Linked DNA regions of Homo sapiens: regions 1 and 3 are each linked to region 2. The links come from fine-mapping of genetic effects on gene expression. A gene starts in region 2. Each other region holds a variant in brackets. All regions are shown on one strand. Distances are between the middles of the regions. Region 1 overlaps ZNF423 (zinc finger protein 423). Region 2 holds the start of ZNF423 (zinc finger protein 423). Region 3 overlaps ZNF423 (zinc finger protein 423).

Region 1 (8,175 bases), 120 kb after region 2:
GAGTCAGGATCTAGAGTCAGAAGACCTGGATACAAATTCCTCTCTGCCCTTCCTGGCACGTGCTTTGAATGGGCTCCTGAGCCTTGTTTTTTTTTTTTCCTCATTGACAAAGTGGGTGAGTCCATTGCACCTACCTGCAGAATGGGGATATCCATTGTACCTACCACATAGAGTTTCTGTCCTCATCGAAATGGGGCAGTGTGAGTGTAAAATGGTACCAGGAGATGCTCACACCATACTCAGCTCCCCTCAGGGTGTAGGGGAGGCTGTGCCACCTCCCTCTGTCCCTGGCAAGGCCCTCTGTCCCTGGCAAGGCCTCTGCTGCTCCTTCCCTCTAGAGGGCATGGGGCCATCTGTCTTGCTGCACAGCGTTTCTGCAGGGTCCGCTGTCTGCTCTCAACGTCATCATCTTGAATGCAAGCCCTTTCTTAAGGGCAGTAGCTCAGTGAGGTGGGAAAATTCACTACTTTTACTTTATTTTTTGAGACTCTTGCTCTGTTATCCAGGCTGGAGTGCAGTGGTGCGAACACGGCTCACTGCAGCCTCCAACTCCTGGGCTGAAACGATCCTCCTGCTTCAGCCTCTCAAGTAGCTAGGACCACAGGCGTGCACCACCATGCCTGGCTGATTTTTAAAATTTTTGTAAAGATGGGGTCTCACTGTGTTGCCTGGGCTGGTCTCAAACTCCATAGGTTCTCCTGTCTCATCCTCCTAAAGTGCTAGGATTACAGGCGTAAGCCATTGTGACTGGCCTGAAAATTCAGTGCTTTCCAGCGAAACATGATTGAGGTGAAAGGTTTTGTTATTGCCTCTCTTTGCTCATAGAATGTCCCCCAAGTCCATATCTTGGGTTCAGGGAAGCTGGGTTTGGGTGGGTGTGGTGTAGTGGGGTTTCCTGGTGTGGGTGTACCCTCTTCCTCCTGGCTGCAGGAAGAAGCTGGCAGGACAGGGCAACCTCGTCATATGTGAGGCTGAGCCATTTGAGATTGCCAATATTCAACTTTTTTGACCTAAAAAATGGCACCTTTATATGATTCAATCTAATACTTATCGTCAGACAATAAACTGCACTGTGGCCCCTTCCCCTCCTTCTGCCTCTACCTGTGTGGGGATTCAGAGGCCTGCTTTTTTGAAACCAATCAATTAATTCACTCATCCATTCATTCAACATTTATTGAGCCCCTACTATATGTCCCTCTGTATGCCAGGGTTGGGGGAGGTGGCACTGAGCTAAATTAGACACAGCTCCTGCCCTCATGGAGCTTATAGTCCGGTGTGGGGCGAGAAGGTCGGCTATCCATTGCTACGTAACAAACCATCCCAAAATGTAATGGCCTGAAGCAATAATTTATTACTACTTCTCACAGTACTATGAGCTAACTGGGTTCAGCTGGCAGTCTCACTGGGTGTTTCTTGTACAGTTGCAGCCGCATGGTGTTTGGAGCTGCTGTCATCCAAAGGCTTCTTGGGGTGGGATGTCCAAGATGGTGTGCTCCCATGGCTGAAGTCGGTGCTGGAAGCTGGGAGCTGTTGACTGGAGCCCCTATGTGCTCTCTCTCCATGTGGCTTGGGCTTCATATATTATGGCTGCTGGGCTTGAAGGGGGAGTGTCCCAGGAGATGCAGGGGGAAGCTGCAAGCCTCCTTCTGACCTAGCCTCAGAAGTCTAGAATAGCACTTCTGTTGCATCCTGTTGGTCAAGGAGCCACTGAGTCTGGCCAGCCCCGAGGGGGACTGTGGAGGAGAATTCGGTCCCTCGTTATGATGAGGGAGTCAAGGTCTCCCTGCAGAAGGGCAGGTGGGGTGGGAGATATTGCTGTGGCAGTCTGTGGAAAATGCAGCCTGCCAAGGGAGAGAGAAAGTAGACAAATTAGCCCACAAAAGCATGAGTGCACGTGATGCTGAGAGCTCTGACTGCAAAGGGAAGAGAGCCCTGGGGAAAGAGTAATGGGGCCCCAACTTCCGTAGGTGCCCAGGCTGGTGGAGATCTTTGGGAACTGTGTGAAGACTTAACGGAAATCTTCCTGCTGGAGATCAGGAGTGGGAAGCCCTGGACCAAAGAGACTTGGAAGTTTATGGGGTTGAAAGATGACCTTCAAGGCTGTGGAGATGGGCGATAAGTGAGAGAGATCAGCAGAGCCGTTGCTGAACCTTAGGGGCTGTGACCAGGACCCTACATGGGACTTTGAGGGGTTTTACAAACTCCCAACACCTGGCTCAGGTGTTCATTGCGTCTTACTGTGAGGAAACCATGTAGTAGAGTGGTTAAGAGTCACATGCAGTGGGCTTGAAACTCAGCCCCACCACTTCTCTGTGGCCTCACTTAAGCTCTGTCACTTCCCAGAGCTCTGCTTTCCTCACCTGTAAAATGGGGATATGATGACATCAACTCATAAGGTGCCTGCACTTGATTAAGCATTGAGTGCTTAATCAATGCTCACTGTTCTTGGGGCATGCCTGGGCAAAAGGATGCAGGTGTGCACATCAGAAAACAGTTGTCCATCGTGGAAAGCATGAGCTCTGGGAGGTAGGGAATCTTGTCAGCTGGACGGACAGGTCGGCGTTCACAGCACTGGTTCGGTTTCTGTCCCATGCACATGGCCCTGAGGGAGAGGTCCCTGATTTGAAATCCATTTGGCTCGGGCCTTCCCTGAGCGAGCTGTCTTCATGCTGCTGCAGACAGCCCCCAGGAGGACAGGGGAGGAGCCAGAGGGAAAGGAGCCAGCCGGCTGTTTTCGGGAAGCCCTCCCCAGCCCTGGAGGCCTCTGCAGAAAAGCATTGAGCCATTGGCCTTCTCCTCGGCCTGTTGAAGTTGCTTCACTGGGCTCTGGGGTGATTGGAGGAACCAGTGAGCTGCAGTTCTAGCCCAGGTCATTGAAATGAGCCAGCGCTTGTGATGGGACTCACAAGGCAGGGCCAGGTGCTGGGCCTCTGGGCCCTATGTTCTCTGAGTTTGCACAGGTGATGTCCAGACTCAGGACAGGGACCAGTTGAGGGGCCTCTGGGGCTGGACAGAGCAGCACACAGGACAGGCGGAGCTGGGTTGAAGGAGTAGGGAAGGTCCAATCATTCCATCCCCAGGACTTACTGAGCAACCGATCAGGTGGGCCTGGAAAAGAGGAACCCCAGACGGTCTCCAGGTAGGTCTGATGTCCTTGGAGCTCCCTGTTGTTAGAACTTCTGCCTCCTGGGCCTTGGAGAGCTTGGGGCTCCAACAGGCCCAGGGACTTCAGGAAAGGTGTGCTGCTTAATGAACACGTGAACGTGTAGATTCGATCCTGGCATGGCTTTGGGTGGCCTTGCAGAGGCTCAGTTTTCTCATCTGCAAATGGAAAAATAACACCATTTATTCTTTTGTCTTATGGTGAGGTTCAGAAACTCCTGGGCATGAAAGTGCATTGCAAGAGGCAAACCCTGCCTGGGGTGGAGGCCTTCCTGTTCTCCAGCGCCTGATTCTGCTGAATCAGCAGAGGGGCCCTTGGGTCTTCAGGGAAGTCCCACTCCCCAAAACTTCTTCAGGCCCCTGAGTCTTCCCTGTCTTGTGTCACCTCCCTGAGGGCCAGGCTGGGACCCCTTGGGAGCCCAGAGGATGAGGTCCGCGCCTTTGTGTGGCCTGAGCTCGCCTTCGTCTCCATCCCTTTCTGCACAGCCACCCTCCCTTCCCATTAGTAGCCGGCCATAGGGGAGGTGACAGTTGCTTAAAACAGATTTATACTCTTGGATGACTTTATGGGTTTTTGCCTTATAAAAACCTGAGAGTTGACATTCTGATTTATCTACTCCCGAGTCAACAGGATGTACCAGATTTAAAGAGATCAAATACATTGTGATGTTTGTGGTTCCAGTTGTGGATTAGATGAGCTATTATAGAAAGTGCTGCCAAGTAAATACGGCAAAAAAATAACGAGGGGATAATTTAAATATGTCTATTAAATTGTGTGTTAAGTAAAGTAGCACAAGTGTGGTGCTGATTGTAACTTATTATCTGGAGGGTCGGTGTAGTAGATAAAGCCAGAATTATGGCTCTTTTATTTTCCCTTTCTACAGAACATTTTTTTTTTATTAAGGAAAGACTGTAAACGAGGAATTTCGGAGACGGGCACTTGACTGTGTAACCATGGTTGTATGATGACTTACAATATCGAAGGCTCCAAATGATATTTCTCATTTCTTTGCTTTCTATTTCTTACCCTCACTGCAGCGGCAGATCAGATTCCCTGAGATAAATATGCTGCCTGACTTTTAATGGGATTTCTGTATTGCCAGGAGTTGGCGCGTTCTGATAATAAAAGAACCTAAAAACTGTACATCCCTTAATTGGTAAGAAGAGAGATGTTTTGATGGGCCACAAATGGAAACATTGATTTTTACTGCCTCCGCGCAGTTCCAGGCGGCGTGTCGTGCAACGTTCCC[C/T]GCCTTGGAAGGAAGCAGCTGGCTCTCCGATGAGCCGATTTGTGTTCCCAGGTTCTTGATGTCGGGTGCTTGGAAGGGCATGTTCTGTGCAGACAGGAGAAATAGAGCCCTTATAACATTATCTGTTTCCAAATTGAAATATTCACAGGACTGTGGTTTCCACCTTGAATTGAGTGCATTCTTTGCTTCGTGTCTGTCTTTCTTGCTTTGGCGCCCGCCCTCAGGGGTTTGCAGGTTGTGCACTGAGCCTTTTCCTGTAACTGTGATGTTGCATGTACACACATGTACATACAGGTGCACATACACGCACTTTTGCATATGTACATATGCTTTCAAAAACACCTTTATGGATAATAAGATCTCTTTCTTTGATTTAAATCAGTGCAGCTAGTTTCCGGATGGGTAAATCTGTTTTCCAGGACAGGCTGTGGGAAGAGACAACACACACTTTTATTTTCCAATCCGAGGGTCTCTGCATTTTAACACACAAATTTTATCCATTGACATTTATTAGGATTACTGATATATTCTGTGGGTTATATTTACCACACGCTTTTGCACTTTGATTTACAAGTTCCTGGTGTGTCTTATTAATCTGTAAGATTGGGGCTGTGCTCCATTACCCACAGTTGTGCAGGGAAGTGAACTAGACCAGGAGTCACGAAGTTGAGCTGAGCCTCTGTAGGGTGCTTGGGCTGTTGCTTCTTCTGGTTGGATGCCAGGTACCTTACCTGTGAGACAAAGCTGTCCCTCTCTGCAGGGGGTTGGATCACATGATCCTTTGAGCCTTCTTTGAGTTTAGGATATGCAAGACTGTGAAATGGGGCTGTGCATATATAATGGTGGCTTTGAAGAAGCACGGAACACAGCACAATTGCAAGGCATCATTATGATTACGAATTCACTTTTCCCTATAGATTAGCCACTCTCTGCACAGTGCTAAGCACAGTAGCTGTTTTATTTTAAAGAAATCAGTGAGATCATTCCACGACTGATTCTAACTGTCTAGGCCTGTACCAGGTCACAGGTGACACTATTTATTTTATTTTATATTTTTTAGAGATAGGGTCCAGGCCCAGGCTGGAGTACAGTGGCACGATCATAGTTCCCCGTAACCTCGAACTCCTGGTCTCTAGCAATCCTCCTGAGTAGGTAGAACTACAGGCACACACCACTATACCAGGCTAATTAAAAAAAAATTTTTTTTTTTTTGTAGAGATAGAGTCTTGCTATATTGCCCAGGCCGGTCTCAAACTCCAGGCCTTCAGCAATTTTCCCACCTTGGTCTCTCAGAGTGCTAGGATTATAGGTGTGAGATTCCATGCCCAGCCTGGATGCATTTTAAGCTTGAGATTCGACCATCCATGGTTCTTCAAACATGTGTACTTCCTTTATTTCAGAGTTGGACATCTTTGCAAAGAACTGAGCCAACGTCACTGCCCTGGGAGGCCTGTTGTGTGGAAGGCGAACTTGGCTAAGAGATCTCCCAGCTCTAAATTGCAAGGCTGTGGGGAAAACTAAAAGTTTAGGTGTGTTAGGAACAGCTGATGGAGGCTTTAAAAAGGTGTGTAACTGAATCTGGTTTTTAGGAGACAAATAAGGTTTTTCACCTCTCCGATGGGTCACGGCCCCCAGCATCCGTGCACAGAGGGGAGATGACAGGAAATCCCCCTAGAAGATTTGCACCAAGAATTAAAGAATCTGGTTGAGAATTATGGCACCACATGCTACAAAAAAACCCCATCTATTAATATACTGAGAGGTGTCAAGGATAATGGACCCCGGGAGGTAGAGTAATTAAATGTATCTTAATAAATGCCGGGCGATTCTTTTAAAACCCTTTCCCAAGACCCCATCAGCTGACATGGACTGTATTCTTCCTGTTGGCAGGAGGCCTAGAAGGAGAGCCAGAGTGCGATCAGAAAACCAGCCGTGCGCTGGAAGACAGGAACAGCGTGACAAGTCAAGAGGAGAGAAATGAGGATGATGAAGACATGGAGGATGAATCAATTTACACCTGCGATCACTGTCAGCAGGACTTCGAGTCTCTGGCAGACCTGACGGACCACCGGGCCCACCGCTGTCCTGGAGGTAATGCAAAACAGCCCCAGGACTCTGACAGGTGGTTACACGGGTAATTGGACATAGCAACAGCTTGAAGCCTCAAGTGAGATTAAAGAATTAATAATGTAATTTTACAGTTAATGTCATTTTATTGTGGTGTCTTGGGTACCCTGTATCCGCCTTTTAAATACAATTAAAAATAAAAGCAACAGCTTTCCGGCAGGCAGGAATTAGATGGTGGTGCTCTGTCCCGGCCCCCTCTCCCCGCAAGCTGTGCTCTGGTACTCAGGCCATGAATGGGTGGATGTGCACCCTGAATTTCTGGAAGGCCTTTTGGAAACGCAGTAATTAAGAGGTTGTTAGTGCAAAGTTAAGCAGCTTAAGTGTGGAAAGCTGCATAAAGGAGTAAGCTCCGAGGCAGAGCTTCTGATGGGATGAGGAAATTTCAAAGGCCAAGGACAGCCCGTGAAAAAGGGACCTGTTTCCAACTCTGTGCTTGACCTCACACTTCTCTGAGTAGGAGGAGAAGGGTAGCTGGGAGCTGCTTCTGCTAGATTTGACTGGAGCTCTGTTCTCCATTTACTTGGTGCCTTGGAGAGGGTGTGTAAGACCAGTTTTCTAGGAGCTACTGAAGACTTCAGGAGTTTTGTGTGTATATGTGTATTTGTCTGGGGTGATTGGGGTGGGGAGTCAGAGGGCATGTGCATTCCCTGGGATGTGGAAGCCATGCTACAGGGATGACACATTTCTGGGCTCTGAGATCTGCAGAGGGAGTCCATAGGACCTGTGTTCCTTACACAGTCTTCCTGAGAGACCTTCTTCCATCAGGGTTGTTGATGAAGCTCCTTGGATACTGGTTTGTGGAAGAAAGCCTGAAATCTCAGGCCTGCATTCTAAAGGGAACCCATCACTTGTTGAGGGGAACATTTACTGGTAGGGATTAGATTGGCACCCAAAGCTCTTGCTTTTTCTACTCCTCATATCATCTTGGAATTTTGAAATTAAGTGTTTGGGGAACTGCTATGATTTGCCCTCTAGTGACATCTGTGCCTGCACAGGGCTGGCTAGACCAAGTTCCCATTCTCAACCTCTGGAGGAACAGATATTTTTAAAATAATAATAATAATAATAATAATAATAATAATAATAATAATAATAGACCTAAGAGGAATCTTACAGTTTTGGACATTTTGGGGCCCAGTAATCCAAACCCCAGTCATTTGGAATTTGTGATATTGCAACCAGAGGCAGAGGTGATGGTTAATTTTCAATTCTAAATCAGAATTAGAAGGGACCTATGAGGTTAGCTTTTTAAGTCTCCTCACTTCCCCAAGGGAAATACTAGGGCAAAGGGAGGAAAAGGTGATTGCTTGGCCGGGGTCACATATCTGTTTGGTGGCCAAGCTAGGACCTCCTCTGGACACTGAGCTATTGACCCTCATCCTACTTGAGGAATAATATTATAGATGTTGGTATATTTCTTGATTTAGCCAAGAATTAACATGGAATCTTAACTATAAGAGAATAAAATATTGCCACTTACTTTATAATCAACTAATTGATCTAATGAAAAGTTATTCTCTTTATTTTCTAAATGCAAGAGAATAGGCCATTCTGTGTAGTTGTTAGAGCAGGGCCCCACACCTTCTGCTAAGCTGTGCTTTCTTGAGTCCCTGCAGCTCTTAGAGGCTGCCCCTTC
Region 2 (8,175 bases):
CCAGATCGTATATATTCAAGTGACTGTTGTCATTTAAAGTAAGTGATGTGTGTGTGCCTGGAAGGGGAAAAGGTGGGCATTTGTTTTTTCTTTTTCTTTTCTTTTTTTTTTTTTTTGAGATGGAGTCTTACTTTGTCACCCAGGCTGGAGTGCAGTGGCATGATCTCAGCTCACTGCAACCTCGGCCTCCCAGGTTCAAGTGATTGTCATGCCTCAGTCTCTCGAGTAGCTGGGACTACAGGTATATGCCACCAAGGCACGTGCCACCATGCCCAGATAATTTTTGTATTTTTAGTAGAGACAGGGTTTCAACATGTTGCTGGGGCTGGTCTCGAACTCATGACCTCAGATGATCCACCCATCTCAGCCTCCCAAAGTGCTGGGATGACAGGCATAAGCCAGGGCCTCCCTAGCAGGTGATCCATCCGTTTCATCTTCCCAAAGCGCTGGGATTACAGGTGTGAGCCACGGCACCTGGCCAAGGTGGGCATTTGGTCACTTACTGGAAAGCATCCCTTGAGCAACTCTGGGAGCTCTGCAGGGATCATAGGTCTGAGGCCACAAAGTGAACACTGCCTTGTTTTCTTTATTGTCCTATCTTGTTTTTGTAGCCCACCAGACCCTCGTGCATTCACCAGACTGCTCAAAATGACGCCTGCCTCTTGAAAATTCAAGGAAGAAGCCTCAGTTGCTGCACATGTAGGAAAAACATTCTTAAGGAGCATGGTTGGGGAAGGCACCGCCTTGGGCAAGAGGTTTCCCCTCTTCCAGCCAAGTTATGACTTTGAAGGAAGATGCACCTTTTTGTGGGCAAAGTCTTACTTGTTCTCAAAAACCTCAACTTGGAATTTCTCTTGCATTTATGATGGTGGCTCCTGCTCCTTACAGCTTACAGTGGGTTTCCACAGCCACTCCTCCAAGCAGGGCAGGAGCAGCTGTTCACTTTCCGGCGAAGAAGGAGAGCCCAGAGGGGCCCCTTCTCATAGGGGAGGGGACTGGACCCCCTATTCCCTGCCAGAAGTAGGCAGGTGGGGGGTATAAAACACACCTGAAAATGACCCTTTCTGGTCCAAGGTCACCCGTGAGAAGCAAGGCCCAGGTGTCACCTGGTGTCCCTTGAGGCCCTTGCAGTCCGAGCTCAGAGGTGGGTGGGGATTGCAAATAAGGAAGGCACTATTGGCTTTTTGTTCCTTTGAGATTTTCCTTAAAACAACATTTTTCTGGAAGGAGTTAAAAATGAAACAAGCTTCAGAAGAAGCGGGACGGGCCGAGGCGGGGACAAGGTCGGGCTCCCTCTGCACCCTGACTGCCGCTGAGCTGGGAGACGCCGAACTTGGCGGGGGAGGGCGGAGCGTCGGGAAACGGACATACGTGCAGGCGACGCGTGGGAGGGGGCCCGGAAAACTTTGTGAGCGGCTCCAGGATCTCGTCCTTTCGGATTAGGTCAGGATGGGCTATTGCGGGCTCCCCATCCTGTTGCCCCCACCTCCGTCCTCAGTCTTCAGCAGGCCCCTAGGGGTGGAAAAGGGCAGCCCCGTGGGACTCCAACCACCCCTCTCCCCCGACGGCCCCTCTTTCGTCCCGCACACGCATTCCCCACCGCGCTCCTTTTGTCCGCCCCCTCACTCTCCAGACTCCCGGCTGGGCAGGATCCGCAATCTCCAGCCCCCCAGAAAGCCTGGGCGGGCGAGCTGGGGGCCGTTCCCCGCCCCCTACCTCTAGCAGAGGCAGCCCGCGGCGGGGGCACCCCAGAGCCGAGGCCAATCGTCCCCCTCCCCCAGCGTGTGCCATCTGCCGCCTGTCAGCCACTCTCCGCGGGCCTCGATCCCAGGCGCCGGCGGGGGTGGGGGAGCGGCTGATTCTGCCCCTCCTTCCTGGCTCCTTCCCAGGCGCCTCGCGGCCCCTGCCCTCGCCTCGGCCCTTGGCACCCCCGGTTCAGCCCAACTCCGTCCATCCCTGGGCCGCGGGGGCGTGGGGGGGGGGGCTCCTATTCCCTCCGGGAAGGCCGAGATGTTGGACACTCTTGGACGCACAAGCTGGGGAGGACTGTGGCCTGGGGATGGTAGCGCTAACCTGGGGAGGGGCGGCCCTCAAGGCTTAGGTCTAGTTAGGGGACGTCTCGGTCCTGGCCTCCGCCCCTCTGGGGAGCCTCGCTCGCCCGCTGCCGCTGTCAGGGTGTCCAGCTAGGCGTCGCGTTTAGCCCGTCACCCGACTCTACCTCTGAGACTGCCTAGGGCGCGCGCGCCTGGCCCCCCTGCCTCAGGCCTCTCCGCATCCTCCAGCTCGCGCTCCCCAGCCGCGGGGGTGCGTGGGTGGCATCTACCTCGGCAATCAGCCCAGCACGGGGTTGGCGAGCAGGGCCCGGCGGGACCGCGGAGAGAGCTGAGCGGGGCCGGGCCCGGCTGGCCGGCAGGCTGGGGAGCGGCGGGGCGCGGGCACCCTGCGTGGGGCGGGCGCCGCGGCCCGGCCGGCCCCGGCGCTGTTCTCGGCGGGCAGCGGGTTTTTCCGTGAAAGGTTGCCCTGGGTAACTCGTCTCCGAGGGGACGTAGCCCTCCCCTCTCCAAGTGGCAACTTATCGATCCGAGAGATTGATAACCCCCAGCGCCGCGCCGTGCACCCGCTCCGTTCTCCTGGCTCCGGGGCGCGCCGGCCCAAGGTGGCGCCACTCACCCGGGAGGGGGGCGAGGTCGGGGCCGCTCCCCACCCGAGACCTGGCCGCCTGCAGCTAGTTGGGGAGGGAGAGGCTCCGAGGAACGGTTTAGGGGAGCCGTCTGGGGAAGACTTTTCCCAAGTCAGAACCCTTCCCGGGCCTGCCCGGAGACCAGAGTCTCAGCCGGTTCAGGAGCTGCGGGGGACGCGCGGCGCCCCCTGGCGGCTGGGTAAAACCTCGCAGAAAGTAGCAGCTGGTTTATTTCTTCTGACAACTGCGCGGGGAGGGGGTGCTCCTGCAAGGTCTCAGGGGTAAGGTGTTCCTTTTACAGTCGGACAGAGGAAGTGCACACCAGGCGCGAGAATTCTACAAATAAGGGTGTAGGGGGCGCACGGGGTTAGCCCAGTGGTGGAAGAATTTGTTGGATGTGGGGCAGGGGTGGTCTTTGAACACCGACCGGTGGGCAAAAGCCAACCTGGCAGAGCCAGGTCCCTGGATAGTTCATGTGCGTGAGGCATACATCGCGAGGTGGCAATACTAGGGCAGCCCAACTCCGTTTGCTCCCCCATTCTTTCACTTTTTACAGTTTGTGAGGCTCATGCGTCTTGGCGAGCTTGACAGCCGCGTGGGCCCTAAGTGTGTTCCCTCCTCCTGCCCCCGGTGCAGCCAGCGCCCGAGCCCCGGCCCCGCGTGCTGGTGCGGTGCCCGCGCCCGCGCCGTGCCTGCCGCCGCCGCCGCCGCCGCCACCACGGTCCGGGTTTTGCGGGCGGCCGGAGCTGTATTTCCAGCGCTGTCCATCGCTCGGTGCTGTTGGCCCTCTCTCCGTCTGATCCGAGCCGGAGCAGTGCGGGGCGCCCCACGGGATCAGAGCGCTCCCCCGCCGGGACTCCGCTCCTCACATCCTCCTGCTGGGACCCGGCTACATTTCCAGCCAAGCCTGGCTTTATTATGTGTCTCTGCAGTGCAGCCCCAGCAGCCGGATCGGGAGGAGGAGAGCCAGCGACCACAAAGAAGACAGGAGCGCGAGGGAGGCTGGCGGGCGGGCCGGCGCCGGCTGGAGCGCGGAGGAGCCGGGGCGCAGCCGCCGCCGCCGCTGCCCAGGAGGACGGGAGCCCGGCCGCCGCCGCCGCCGCCTGCTCGTCCTCCTCTTCCGCCACCGCGGCCGCCGCCTCCCCCCTCTCCGAGCCCCTGGCCCATGGAGGCAGCTAGCGGGGCCGGCGACTTGGCACCGGCCTGGGGATCGGCTGCGCGCCTCGCGCTGAGCACCGCAGCCCGAGGGCAGGCAGCGGCGGCCCGGCGCACGGGCTGAGCGATGCCCGGGGCACGGGCGCGCCTGCCGGCCGCCGCCTGAGCGCCCCCGCGCGCCCCTTCCTCCTCCGGGGGGCCGGCGCCGGGCCGATCCGAGAGCCAGAGAAGGGGGCGTGAGCCAGGGGCCCCGAGCCGCGGCTTCCGAGCCACTGCGGCCGTTTCGAGCCTCCCCTCCAAGTAGGCTGAGTTGAGGGACCCCCGCCCCCCATCCATCATAATCTCCAAACCAGGCGCTTGGGCATTTTTGAGCCATTAATATTTATTATTTTTTTTTGTGCGGCAGGGGATAATTCGAAGGCTTCTTTTTTTTTTTTTTCCTGGGGGGTACTGAGCTTCCGCGCTCCCGACCGCCTCCCGGTCTCCTCCCCCCTTGAGATACCCTCGACTCCAGCCCCGTTCCCCCTCCTCAGATGGGTTCATTGTGAGCTCCGCACCGGGCTGCGTGGCCGGACGCCTGCAAACTTTGCACAAAAATCCGGCAAGGGGCGGAGGAGGAGGAGAAGGAGGAGGAGGGTGAGGGTGGCGGTAGGGTGGGGGAGGGAAGGAGGGGGCCGCAGGGGCCGGGGGCCGGCGGGGGGTTGGGAGGAGGAGGGGGGCGGCTTTTTTTTTTTTTTTTTTTTTTTTTTTTTTGCATAACTCGGCTCGGCCGAGTGGCCTCCGGACTCCCCGCGCCGCTGGGACCGCCGCTTGGATCGGGAGCCCCGGACTGCCGCATTGCAACAGGCAGGGCCCCGGCGCGCCCCCCGGGCCTCCCCCCGCCTTCGAGCGGCCTCGGCCGGCCCGGGCTGCCCCCCCAAGGGAGGCCGCCCCGGACCTGCGGTCCGCTCCCCACAGCCGCCAACCGGGCTGCAAAAAAAAAAGTTTCCAAGAGACAGGCGGAGGAGAAGGGGGAGAAGGGCTGCCCGGAGCGGCGGGGGGCGGCGGGGGGAGCCGGCTGCGGAGGGCGACGGAGCGCCCGGAGCCCCGGACATGTCCAGGCGGAAGCAGGCGAAGCCGCGCTCGGTGAAAGGTGAGCGAGCGAGGCCCGGCGGAGGCGCGAGCGAGCGAGCGAGGAGGGAGGGAGCGAGGGAGGAGGGACCGGCGAGCGGGCTGGCTGCCGGGGACCCGCGCGAGCGAGCCGAGAGGAGGAGGAGGAGGCGGCAGAGGAGGCGGAGGCGGAGGCGGAGGCGGAGGAGGGGGAGGAGGAAGCCGGGAGCAGGAGGCGGAGGCGGCGGCGGCGGCGGCGGCGGCGGAGGGGGTACGCCGCGGACACCCTCCCTGCCCGGACTCGGCGCCGTCGCCCTTGGGGGACCCAGGCCTGGGGGCGCCGCTAAGGGGCCCTTGCCGCTCCCTCCGTGCGGGGCCCGGGCCCGTGTGGCCAATCAAGGGGTGCTGGCCCGACTTGGCGGGGATTGCGAATCTCGGCGGCGGCGGGCGGGCGACAGGAGGAAGGAAGAGGCGGCGAGGACGGGCGCCCGGCAGGCCGACCGCTCCTCGCTGGCCCCGGGCCTCGCTGGCTCTCTCTGGCCCCTGCCTGGTCGCCCGAGGACGCGGGGAGCGGCGGGCGCTGTCGGCGAGCGCCCCGGGCGCCGCGCCCTCGCCCCGGCCGCCTGGCGCCCCCTCCCGCCCCTGCCCAGGCCTTCTCCCGGCCCGGGCCCCTGCACTTCCTGCCTCCTCCACCGAGGCCCACCGGGCAGGGAGCCTCCGCCAGGAGTTCATTGTCTGCACGGCGCCGGCGGGACGCAGGTCCTCAGGGGAGCTCAGCGGCCGCGGTGCGCGCCCCTCCGCGGAGGGCGCCCCGGATCTGACCCCGGGCACCGGCACCCTGGATCTGACCCCGGGCACCGGCACCCTCGACACCCAGGCCGGCTTTCTGTGCTGGCTCCCCGGGGTGCGCGCGTTTGTGGGGAGCTGCAGATATATAGATACACACACCCATCCCTTCGTCTCCACGCTTTGCTTTCTATTTCCAGCGAGGGCCCCCAGCTCGAGGGGACCCCTGGAGAGTAGAGGCCCCGGGGAAAGGCCGCGCGCCGGCAGCAGAGCCCCTCCCCTGGCCTCCTCTCCCCGCGGCTGGCCTTTCCAGGCCTTGCCTGCTGCTTTGTCCCGATTCTAGCCCCTCGGTTGGGTGCCCGGGCGCTCGGCTGTGAGATGGGAGATGATCGAGGAAGGGGGGAACGATGAGAGCGGCTAAGTCTACGGAGCCAAAAGCCCCCAGGCCCTTGTCTTCTCCCATCTCCCCTGATGACCTCTGGCCTGAGCCCAGTTCTGCTCTGAAAAGTTCATTTCCTGGAGGCCTGCGCGGGAAGGCGCTGGGGCCCCGCTCCCTTCCTGCCAGCCTTGCGCCTGGCTGGAATGGCTGGAACTGAATCTGGCAAGGAGGATCTTGAGACACTCGTCAGTTCTGTCCTCCTGAAGTCCCCGGAGGGACTGCCCCCGGCCCAGCAGAGATCCTCCCCGTCATATTAGAAGGAGACCAACTGAGTCCAAACGGAGCGCCCGGCCCGTTCCTACTCCTCCTTTTCCCTGAGAGAAGTTGGTCTTGTTCGCCTCACCCTGGCTGGTCTCCCAATCCGGGACAGCCTGGCCTGCTCCACAGAACTGGGGGTTCAGAGGGTGTTCTGATTGGGGGACAGGGAAACCAGAAGAGAGACTCCAAGAAGAGGACGGGAAAGAAGGGTGGATGTTTCTCTTTTGCTGATGGAAGGGCTGTACGGCTTGAAATAATACTGGATTTCTTTTCTCTTTCCCTGGCTCACTGCTCACTCCTTCAGGAGCCACTTAAGAGGCGACCCAGAAGAAAATGTGGAATTGGAATTTCTGGTTGGAAAAACAGTTTTATTTAACTCAGGCAGTTGATTTTGAGTTTGCAAAGCTTGCTTACCTAGACTTCCAATCCACTTCTCCAAACCTCCTTACGTTAGACGGCGAGACCCAGAAAGCAAAAGGAGAGCAGTTTGCAGTGAACAGATGGGTGGGTGTTTCAAAGTTGCTTGAACCGAGTTCTAAAACCACTCTGTGGATCTCTGAGAAGGACTCAAGAATTGGTCTTCAGCCTTTCATGAAATGAGCCTTGAAATGATTTTTAGTGAGTGCCTCTCTCAAATGTGTATGTGTGTATGTGTAGCAGACAGTTCAAGCAGGTTGGTAGGAGAAAGGCAGCAAGGTGAACAGGAGACCAGTGGAGGCATTTCGAGACTCGGTGTTGTAAATATCAGCCACACAGAGCCTTTCTGTCCGCAGAGTCAGAGACCCCCTGATTCTTCCCATGGCTTTTTGCATTTTCCAAAAGCAGCTACAACCCTTGTCTCTCACCATTTTACCTTTTATTCTGTTTACTGGGGTGAAGAGGGTGGAGATGTGGCCACTTATCAAGGGAGGAATTAAGAGAGAAGATAATTTGGATAGATAAGAGTTCCAGCAGGTGAGGGATTTATTGCTTTTCAAGAACTGCTCCCCCCCCGCCCCGCCCCTTCTCTTAAGCAATATTCAAAAGTGTGTGCTTGAGTGTGGACAGCTCCACACCAAGTGTTTGAAACGACAAGGTCTTCACCTTTAAAGATGCTTGAAAGTGCTTCTTAAGGAACAGCGGTGTCTTTTACATTTTATTTTATTTTATTTTGCCTCCACTGCTGTGTGTCAGGGCTAATGTAGAGGCTTTGTGGACTTCCCCGGCCCCGAGCATTCTGCTGTGAAAGTCGCTTGACTGTAATTTGTAGTTGATCTCGGAAATGTGAAAGTCCATAGCAGGAAGGAAAGACAGAAATACAACAATTTCGAATGGATGCTCAGAAAGTGTGATTTGAAAGCACAGGCATTGCTGCTTTGAAAATAAAACTGGCCTCTGGGGGCTGGGGTGGTCTCACTTCCCACTCACGGACACAACCTCCCTTCTGGAGTGGGGTCCCTTGTCCCCGCAGTGTGTTTGTCCTTCTTTGGAAAACCCAGCTCACAGGGAGGACACCTAGTAAATAGGGAAGGGGGTTGGGGCACTAGGGGAGGGGGGAGAATAGCCTCATTGGTTTTCAGAAGCCTTGTAATTTTATTTAAAAAAAAACAACCCTAAAGCCGGGAGTGTTATAAAAGTCACATTTTTCTGACCGATTTTCCCTCCCTACACCTTTCTCCCCTTTTTTGTTTCCTGGTGGTGTGGTATGGTGTGGTGGTTGCAGTGATTTGTTCTCTTTGATAATTTTGGCCTCATTTTCCCGGGCTGTTCTCATCATGCTCACTGATGT
Region 3 (8,175 bases), 210 kb after region 2:
AGCTCTGAGTTAGGGGTTCTCTGTCTGGGCAGCAGGGGACGCCTCCAGAGTGGGGACCCCAAGTCCCCTCCCACCCGCCTGAGGTTTTGCCGCTGCAGCCCTGCCTGGAGAATCCAATGCCGCGTTAAATATGTGGATTATCCAAAAATTTCTGCAGCAATAGGGTGAGTTATTATTGATTCACAGAGCACGACAAAACATCACTGCATGAATTAGCAAACAGCTGTTTCTAATTTGAGTTTAGAACGGTACACAGAGGAACTTGTTTCTCTGTTCACTCCTTTCATTTATAATGAATTTTAATCACTGCTACAGGTGAGAAAAATGTAGAAACAAGCTTGTATCTTGTGGAAGAAACAAAGGAGAGGCAGATGCTAACAGATTTCCAGTCTGTGATAAAAGGGATGTTTTGGTACACTTTACATGTAATTAGAGCGCAGCTGTTTCCAGTCCCAGGTCCACGAACACGGCCGAATGTGGGCTCTGCCGATCTCCAAAGGGAGTCAAGAAAAACAGTGATTCAACCCCGAAAGCATTTTGCTTTCACTCGAGTGGAGCAGAGCGCCCTTTGCTCAGGCCCTTGGCGGTGTTGCTTCATGAAGCTCACGGAGATGACTTCACAAGGCGCCAACTCCTTGTGAAGAGGCGGGCAGGCGATGTCAGGGTGCGCAGGAGGTCCACGCCAGGAGGCTGGCAGGAGAACCTTCCGGAGCTCCTGAGCTCCTCGTGCCCCTGGGGAGTCCCTTGTAGGGGCAGACTTGGGGGGCTCTTCCTTGCTGGCAGGAGTTGATCACTAGGCTCCTCTTTAGCAAGTTTGATCACAGCCAGCTCTCGGGTGAGCTGATGAGCACTGGCTTTTTTTTTTTCCCCTTTCCTAGTCTGTTTAATTTCTGCAATAAAACTCGAGCTCAATTGCATTTTCAATATCAGTGCTAAGTAAATTTGTCTAAGGGATGGAGCTGCCTGGCAGGCTGTGTGTTCTGCGAGGTCAGAGGCTTCAAGGGGAAAGGTGGACGCGTCCTTGCCCTGCATGTCCAGCAGCCATGTGGGGGCGGGGGAGGGAGTGTTCTGGGAGTCTGAGCCTCATCCCCCACCCCCTCCACCATGAGCTGAGGGACCCACATCCAAGCCATGGATGGCTCCCAGTACCTTAGATTCTCTGTTTGTGTAATGAGAGCGTTGGGCTCCATCTGTATAATGAGGGGTCTTGAAGCTCCTTTCAGGGCTGATGTCCTGGGATTGTAAATGGCAGGGGCCCTCTGAGAATTTTGGCAGGTTGAGTTTGCTTTGTTTGAAAACCATCTTGTGCACGGGTAACTGTAGGTTTAGCTTAGACCCTGTTGGTTATCAATCAGGGCTCAGGGAGGTGACACTGTGTCTTGTGTCCCCTCAAACCATTCCAGCCATTGCCAGCCTCTCCTTGTCCTGTGACCACCTTATGGTGATTTGGGAGCCAGTAGCCAGTGACTATTTTAGGCATTATAGAACATTTGTCATATATAACGCCTTACAGATATTCACTGATTTCATCTTTAAAACAACTCTATAGTTGGGTCTATAAATAGTCATCCCCATTTTACAGATGTGAAAACTGAGACAGGTTTCTCCATCTGTAAAATTGAGCAAGGGTCATTCACTTGGCTAAGGTCACACACATAGTAAGTGGGGGAGCTGGGAGTCTAAGCCCTGCTGCCGGCTCTCAGCCACCAGGCAAACACAGATGTCTCCAAGGCCCGGGACACCCCCTAATGGTGAGGGAAGTCCTGGGGTGCTGGGCATGCAGGGGGGTGGGGGTCCCTCCTCCAAGAAGCCCCAGCTGAGCTCCATCTTCCACATGCCAGATGCAGAGTCTGTGCTCCCAGGCCTTCTTCTCCTTCAAGAAAAACCGTAAGTGGGCCAGGCGTGGTGGCTTATGACTGTAATCCCAGTGCTTTGGGAGGCTGAGGCAGGAGGATCCCTTGAGGCCAGGAGTTTGAGACCAGCCTGTGCAACATAGAGAGACCCTGTCTCTACAAAAAAAAAAAAATTAAAATTAGCCAGGCATGGTGGCACGCACCTGTGGTCCCAGCTACTTGGGAAGCTGAGGCAGGAGGATCGCTTGAGCCCAGGAGGTTGAGTCTGCAGTGAGCCATGATTGCATCACTGCACTACAGCCTAGGTGACAGAGGGAGACCCTGTCTCTAAGAAAAAAGAAAAAAAAAAAGCCAAAAGTGACTGTGAATTAAGGAACAACAACAACAAAAAGTTGGGAATTCTTGATTTGTAAATGTTGGCATTTTCACAAAATCACTAATACTGATAACTGGGTGGCCCCCAGACTGTCCAGTGGGAGGACAGCCATGATGACCTATGACCCATTGCTCAGGGCATCATTTCTCCCAGTCCAGCTGGCTAAGAGCCCTGGGTTGGAAGTTCAGGCCTAGCTCTTCCAGTCACTTTGTGATGTCAGGATGTGACCTAACCTCTCTGTTCTTTTTCCTCATTACTGGGGTGACCACACAACTTACTGTGTAAGCTCAGCTGTTTATGAGGGTGAGAGGGATTCACTAACTGAATGGGATGCTGGGTTCCATCCCAGGATGCCTGGGTGTGTGGCCCCCCACTTACTCGTAATATGGGGATAATAACAATAACAAAACCACCATGACCACCACCACTGCACAGAGTTGCTCCAGATGTCAAATGGATAATGGGTGTGAGGTGCTGCGCAAAATGTTAAATGCCCTGTAGATTATGGGATTTACGATGAATGATAATAGTGTCAGTTACATTAGGAACCCCTTTATCTTATTTAGCCAATGTTCATCCAATGTTTAGCAGTATGTAAACATTAACCACTTTGTAAGGTAGTTACTTTTAGTTTCCCCAGGACATGGGCACTCAGAGAGGGGCAGTAATTTTCCCATGGTCTCACAGCTAATGATGGCTGAGCAAGCCAGTGCACACTCTTACTCATGGCTCTGCTGTCCCTCAGGGCTGACGTCTCCCTGCAATTGACTGAGTTTCTTCAAGCTTAGCAGCCTAAGCTAAGTTTTGAGTCCCTGGAAGTTTTGTTAAGGGCCTTGGTGGCAGCTGTTCACTGTCACATGGCATTTCAGCAGCCCCCAGAGCTGGCTGGAGAAGGGCAGGCCTGGTCAGTCTCTGTCTTTGAGATGTCCAGTGACCTCTGAGTCTTTTTTCTCCCAAACCGAAGGAATGATCCCTACTTTTCCTTGCTTATACTTTGGGGATGATGAGATCCCATTCGTAAGAAACTCTCAGCTCCCTGGAGGAGGAATGAGTGAATAGGTGCTGCTATTATTTTTGCTAATAGCATAATTCTAACTCGAGATTTCAGGAAGAGCCATGTCAGCTTCTGGTCACCTTTGTGGAGCTCCTTGGCTTACCTCTGAGGAAAGAACCTCCAATAGCCTCATCCCTTTCCTTTCCCAGGGTGGACTTTTGATGTCCCAGGGGTCAAACTTAATCCTTTACACTTCTCCTGTCAGATATCTAGGTGCAGTACTGATGTTACAATTGAAGGGATTCTCTCTCTCTCTCTCTCTCTCCCTGTGTGTGTGTGTGTGTGTGTGTGTGTGTGTACTTCAAAGCAGTAAAGGGTTTCTTTAGTGTTTAATGTTTAAACAGTAATTAATTGACACGGAGATTGGACAGATAAGAGCATAGAAACCTAAGAATGCTGGGTACCTCTACACCCTTTGGAAAACTGGATATTTAGAGCAGGCATCCTAAATATGTGCTGAATTAAAAAACCACCCGAACTAGGAGATAGTAGAGAGCTGGGATACCTACCACCTGAGACTTACTCTGTACCCAGGGCAGGCACAGACATCATTAAGTGATAACAGACTGTAAGAGCTACAAAGCCTCTTAGAGACCTGTTCGTCGGATTCTCTCTATCAAGAGATGGGGAAATGAAAGCACAAAGAGGGGATATGCTTGCCCATGGTTACACAGTTCTGGAATCTGAACCTGGTCCAGTAGTGATCTCATCCACTATG[G/A]CTCATGGCTCCACCCTCTGGGCTTGAGGTTCTGCCCGCTTAGTCATCCCTTTTTTCCCCATGAAAGGTAGCATGTACTTTCATCTGAGTAGTTTTATTAACCTGTTTCCTGCTTGTGAAGTTTTGGGTGTCCAACAGACTTCTTTCATCCTGTACTCTCTCTGTCCTTTTTGGTTTAAGCTGGCAGTGTTTCTGTCAGTATAAACTTTTCAAGAACCTTGTGAGTCTCCTGTGTATGTCATGGGTATTTTCTCCATTATTCAAGATGGTCCTCTACAGATATTTCCTGGATAATCCCTTCTCTACTTTTGTCTTTTGCTGAGATTGCTCCAGAGCAATACCCCCAAATTTCCTAGATGCTCTCTAATTTGATCTAGGAGATCTGTGAGTCACACCCTTAATCTCACCAAAGAGCCTTTGTTGTGACTGAATACTCAATACTCTGGCATTTTGATTTTCCTGAGATATTAGCAATATGTGCAGTCCTACCTTCAGCTTTTTCTCCGGAGCATGCTTTCTTGTAAGTAAATCTCTTAGAGTTTTTTTTTTCTTTTTTCTTTTTTTTTTGAGATGGAGTCTTGCTCTGTCACCCAGGCTGGAGTGCAGTGGCATGATCTTGGCTCACCACAACCTCCACCTTCTGGGTTCAAGCGATTCTCCTGCCTCAGCCTCCTGAATAGCTGGGAGTACCTGGAATTACAGGCATGTGCCACCATGCCCAGCTAATTTTTGTATTTTTAGTAGAGACGGGGTTTCTCCATGTTGGTCAGGCTGGTCTCGAACTCCCGACCTCAGGTGATCCGCCTGCCTCAGCCTCCCAAAGTGCTGGGATTACAGGCGTGAGCACTGCGCCTGGCCTGCTTAACAGTTCTTTTCTTAATCTTTTTTCTTTTTAGCAGCAAGAAGAAACCAGCCCATACCTTCCACAGTTTGCTTGGAAATCTACTTAGCTAAGTATCCAAGTTTATCCATGAAAGTTCTGCTTCCCACATAACTGTGAGTCATAATTTCACTTAGCTTTCTGCCACCAAGTATCAAGGATCCCCCTTCCTTCAGTTTCACTGTCAGTGCCTTTATTAATATCCATATTTCTCTTAATAGTCTGTTCATGATGATTTAGATATTTCCTAAAGTGATTTAGGTTTTCTCTGATGTGTTCCTTACTTTCTTCTGAGTCTTTATTAACAGAGTCATTAATATCTATGTTTCCATTAATCTGTTCAAGGTTACCTAGGCTTTTAAATAAATCATACTCCTCAAAATTCTTCTACCCTCTGATCGCTGCCCAATTCCAGAGCCACTTCCATGATTTTAGGTATTTGTTCTCATAGCACCCCACTCCTGGTACCAAAATCTGTATTAGTTTGCTATTACTGCTGTAACAAATTACCATAAGCACAGTGGCTTAAAACAACAAACAAAAAATAGTATCTTAGAGTTCTGTAGGTCAGAAGTCTGACCCAGATGTCACTGGGTTAAAATTAAGGTGTTGGCAGGGCCGCATTCCTTTCTGGATGCTCTTAGGGAAAAATCCATTTCCTTGCCTTTCCAGTTCTTAGAGGCTGCTCACATTTCTTGGCATATGGCCTCCTTCCATCTTCAATACTAGTAATTGCTGGTTGGGTCCTTCTCATATTGCATCACCTCAACCTCCTCTTCTGCCTCCCTCCTGCACATTTAAGGACCCTTGTGATTACAACAGACCCATGTGGATAATCCAGGATAATCTCTTTATTTTAAGGTCAGCCAATTGTCAACCTTAATTCCATTTTACCATGTAACGTAACATATTCATATGTTTTGGAAGTTAAGACTTGGACATCTTTGGGGTAATTATTATTCTGCCTACCACAATCTCCAGGTTTGCTTCTGCATAGGCTATTTAAGCAGCAGGCTACTTTACCTGCCATCCAGTGAGGAAAGAGGCCAGCAACATTCATTAGTGCTTGGCATCAGACCCAGCCTAGCCTGGTCATCCACCACTGACTTTGCCTCAATGGCAGGTGGGGTTGTAAAGCTTAAGACCTGTACCTGGTTCAAGTCACGGGGCCTGGTACTGTGCTTGTGCATGGTGGACCTCAAGAAAGAGGGAGCAGGTCCAGCAGGGATATGGGCCTTGGACTGGCTCCAGGGCCTGGTGAAGCAGTGTAGCCTGGTGGTTAGTAAGTGGGTGGGGGCATCTGCCACTTGCAATGTCTGTGCGCTCAGAAGTTACTTTCCTTCTTGGAGTGTCACTTTGCACAGTTATAAAAAGGGGTTGTTAATAGTACCTACCTCATAGGGAATGTGTGAGAATCAATTGAGAAAAAGCTGGCAAAGGACCTGGCACATAGAAAATGTGTCATACAGCTGGGCGTGGTGGCTCACGCCTGTGATCCCAGCACTTTGGGAGGCCAAGGCAGGTGGATCGCAAGGTCAGGAGTTCAAGACCAGCCTGACTAAGATGGTGAAACCTTGTCTCTACTAAAAATACAAATATTAGCCGGGTGTGGTGGTGGGTGCCTGTAATCCCAGCTACTCAGGATTCCTACCGAGGCAGAGAATTGCTTGAACCCAGGAGGCAGAGGTGGCAGGAAGCCAAGATCGTGCCACTGCACTCCAGCCTGGGTGACAGAGCGAGACTCCTTCTCAAAAAAAAAAAAAAGAAAAAGAAAAGAAAATGTGCCATAAACAGTAACCACTGGATCTGCCTGTGACTTGTCATGTTGCCTCAGTTTCTCCATCAGTGAAATAAGATGAGGGAGGAGCTATGCACCCTCTCTTGCCCTCAATACACTGATGCTAGTTTTACAGGCAGGGATGTAATTGAGTTGAGGAGTATTCTGGGATGGATGGCTAGTTCTGGCATCAGGTGTGTGCAAGTACCCCTGGTTTCCCAAGAAGTGATCAGGAATATGCCCAGATGCCCCTTGAGCTCAATTTGGATCATTTCGTGTCTGGAAAGCCACCTGCTTAGGCTCTGGCTACCTCTGTGGGAACCACAATCTACAGTGTGCCCTGAAGCATATTCAGGTCTTGCAGCTCTTATTACCCCAGGCTCTAGGAAACACTGACTGGCTCTCCTCGGTTGTCCGGGCTGCTTTGTGTCCACTTTGGGCAATCCTCACCATCAGCTGATGTCACAGCTGACCTATCTGGCTGGAGATTCCTCTCCAGACTCCAACACAGTTCTACAGTATATTAGTTCATTCTCATGCTGCTGTGAATAAATACCCAAGACTGGGTAATTTATGAAGGAAAGAGGTTTAATTGACTCACAGTTGTGCATGGCTGGGAAGGCCTCAGGAAACTAACAATCATGTTGGAAGGGGAAACAAACATGTCCTTCTTCACATGGTGGCAGGAAGGAGAAGAATGAGAGCTGAGCAAAGAGGGAAGCCCCTTAATACAACCATCAGATCTCATGAGAACTTACTCACTATCGCTAGAATAGCATGGGGGAAACCACCCCCATGATTCAGTTACCTCCCACCAGGTCCCTCCCACCACAAGTGGGGATTATGGGAACTACAATTCAAGATGAGATTTGGGTGAGGACACAGCCAAACCATATCATACGGTATCTGTCAGGGCCTCTTGTCTCTCTGTGACCAACAGGATTTTGGGAACACCAAAGCCTCATCTCTCAAAGAGAATGGACAGCTCCTTTTTTGGAAGAGGAAACCTGAAAAGCATCTAGCATTGGGAGTCAGGAGACTCCTCTTTCCAGTTTGCTCAGTGCCCTTTGACTATTCCATTCCTACATGTCTCTGCTCATGGCAGACATCATCAGTTGATTGCAGCACTCATTTCTTTGGACCTGAGATAAGGCCTTGGAATCCTTCTGAACACAGGATTCTAGGCAACCACTACCAATTAGCTGGGCTTGTAAGTTTTCTTCTCTTTTCTGGGCCTCAGCTTTTCCATCTGTATCATGTGGGATTGGGTAGTTGGTTCCTGAGTCTAGGGTCCCATTCCTCTGAGCTTAGGGAAGGGCCACAGTGATTCCTATTCTTGGAGCTCTGTATGGGGGCAGCAGAGAAGCTCTGCTTGGTGTATTACAAAGCTTTGTCCTGTCGGGAACTGGTCTCCTTGGCAATTTTCATTTTTCTGAAGAAACAGTTGAGTGGCAAGGAGTCTTTTTGGGGACTTTGTGAAGCACTGTAAGGCCATTTTGTGTCTATCATGAAGATGG

Evidence for each region.
Region 1: its variant is fine-mapped to the expression of ZNF423 in sigmoid colon (GTEx, PIP above 0.99).
Region 3: its variant is fine-mapped to the expression of ZNF423 in testis (GTEx, PIP above 0.99).

The regions. Positions count from the first base shown.
Region 1 is chr16:49,729,099-49,737,273 of GRCh38, reverse strand. It overlaps ZNF423 (zinc finger protein 423), which reads left to right. Exons shown (of 8, transcript NM_001379286.1): 3 at 6,303-6,503. Among named protein-coding and RNA genes, the nearest start is that of ZNF423, 120 kb to the left of the region's middle. The variant C/T (reference allele first, on the strand shown) is at 4,413.
Region 2 is chr16:49,852,527-49,860,701 of GRCh38, reverse strand. It overlaps ZNF423 (zinc finger protein 423), which reads left to right and starts at 4,590. Exons shown (of 8, transcript NM_001379286.1): 1 at 4,590-4,967. The coding sequence starts at 4,928. RefSeq lists a silencer at 5,087-5,346.
Region 3 is chr16:49,645,045-49,653,219 of GRCh38, reverse strand. All of the region lies in intron 3 of ZNF423 (zinc finger protein 423), which reads left to right. Among named protein-coding and RNA genes, the nearest start is that of LINC02179, 180 kb to the right of the region's middle. RefSeq lists an enhancer at 3,998-5,197. The variant G/A (reference allele first, on the strand shown) is at 4,002.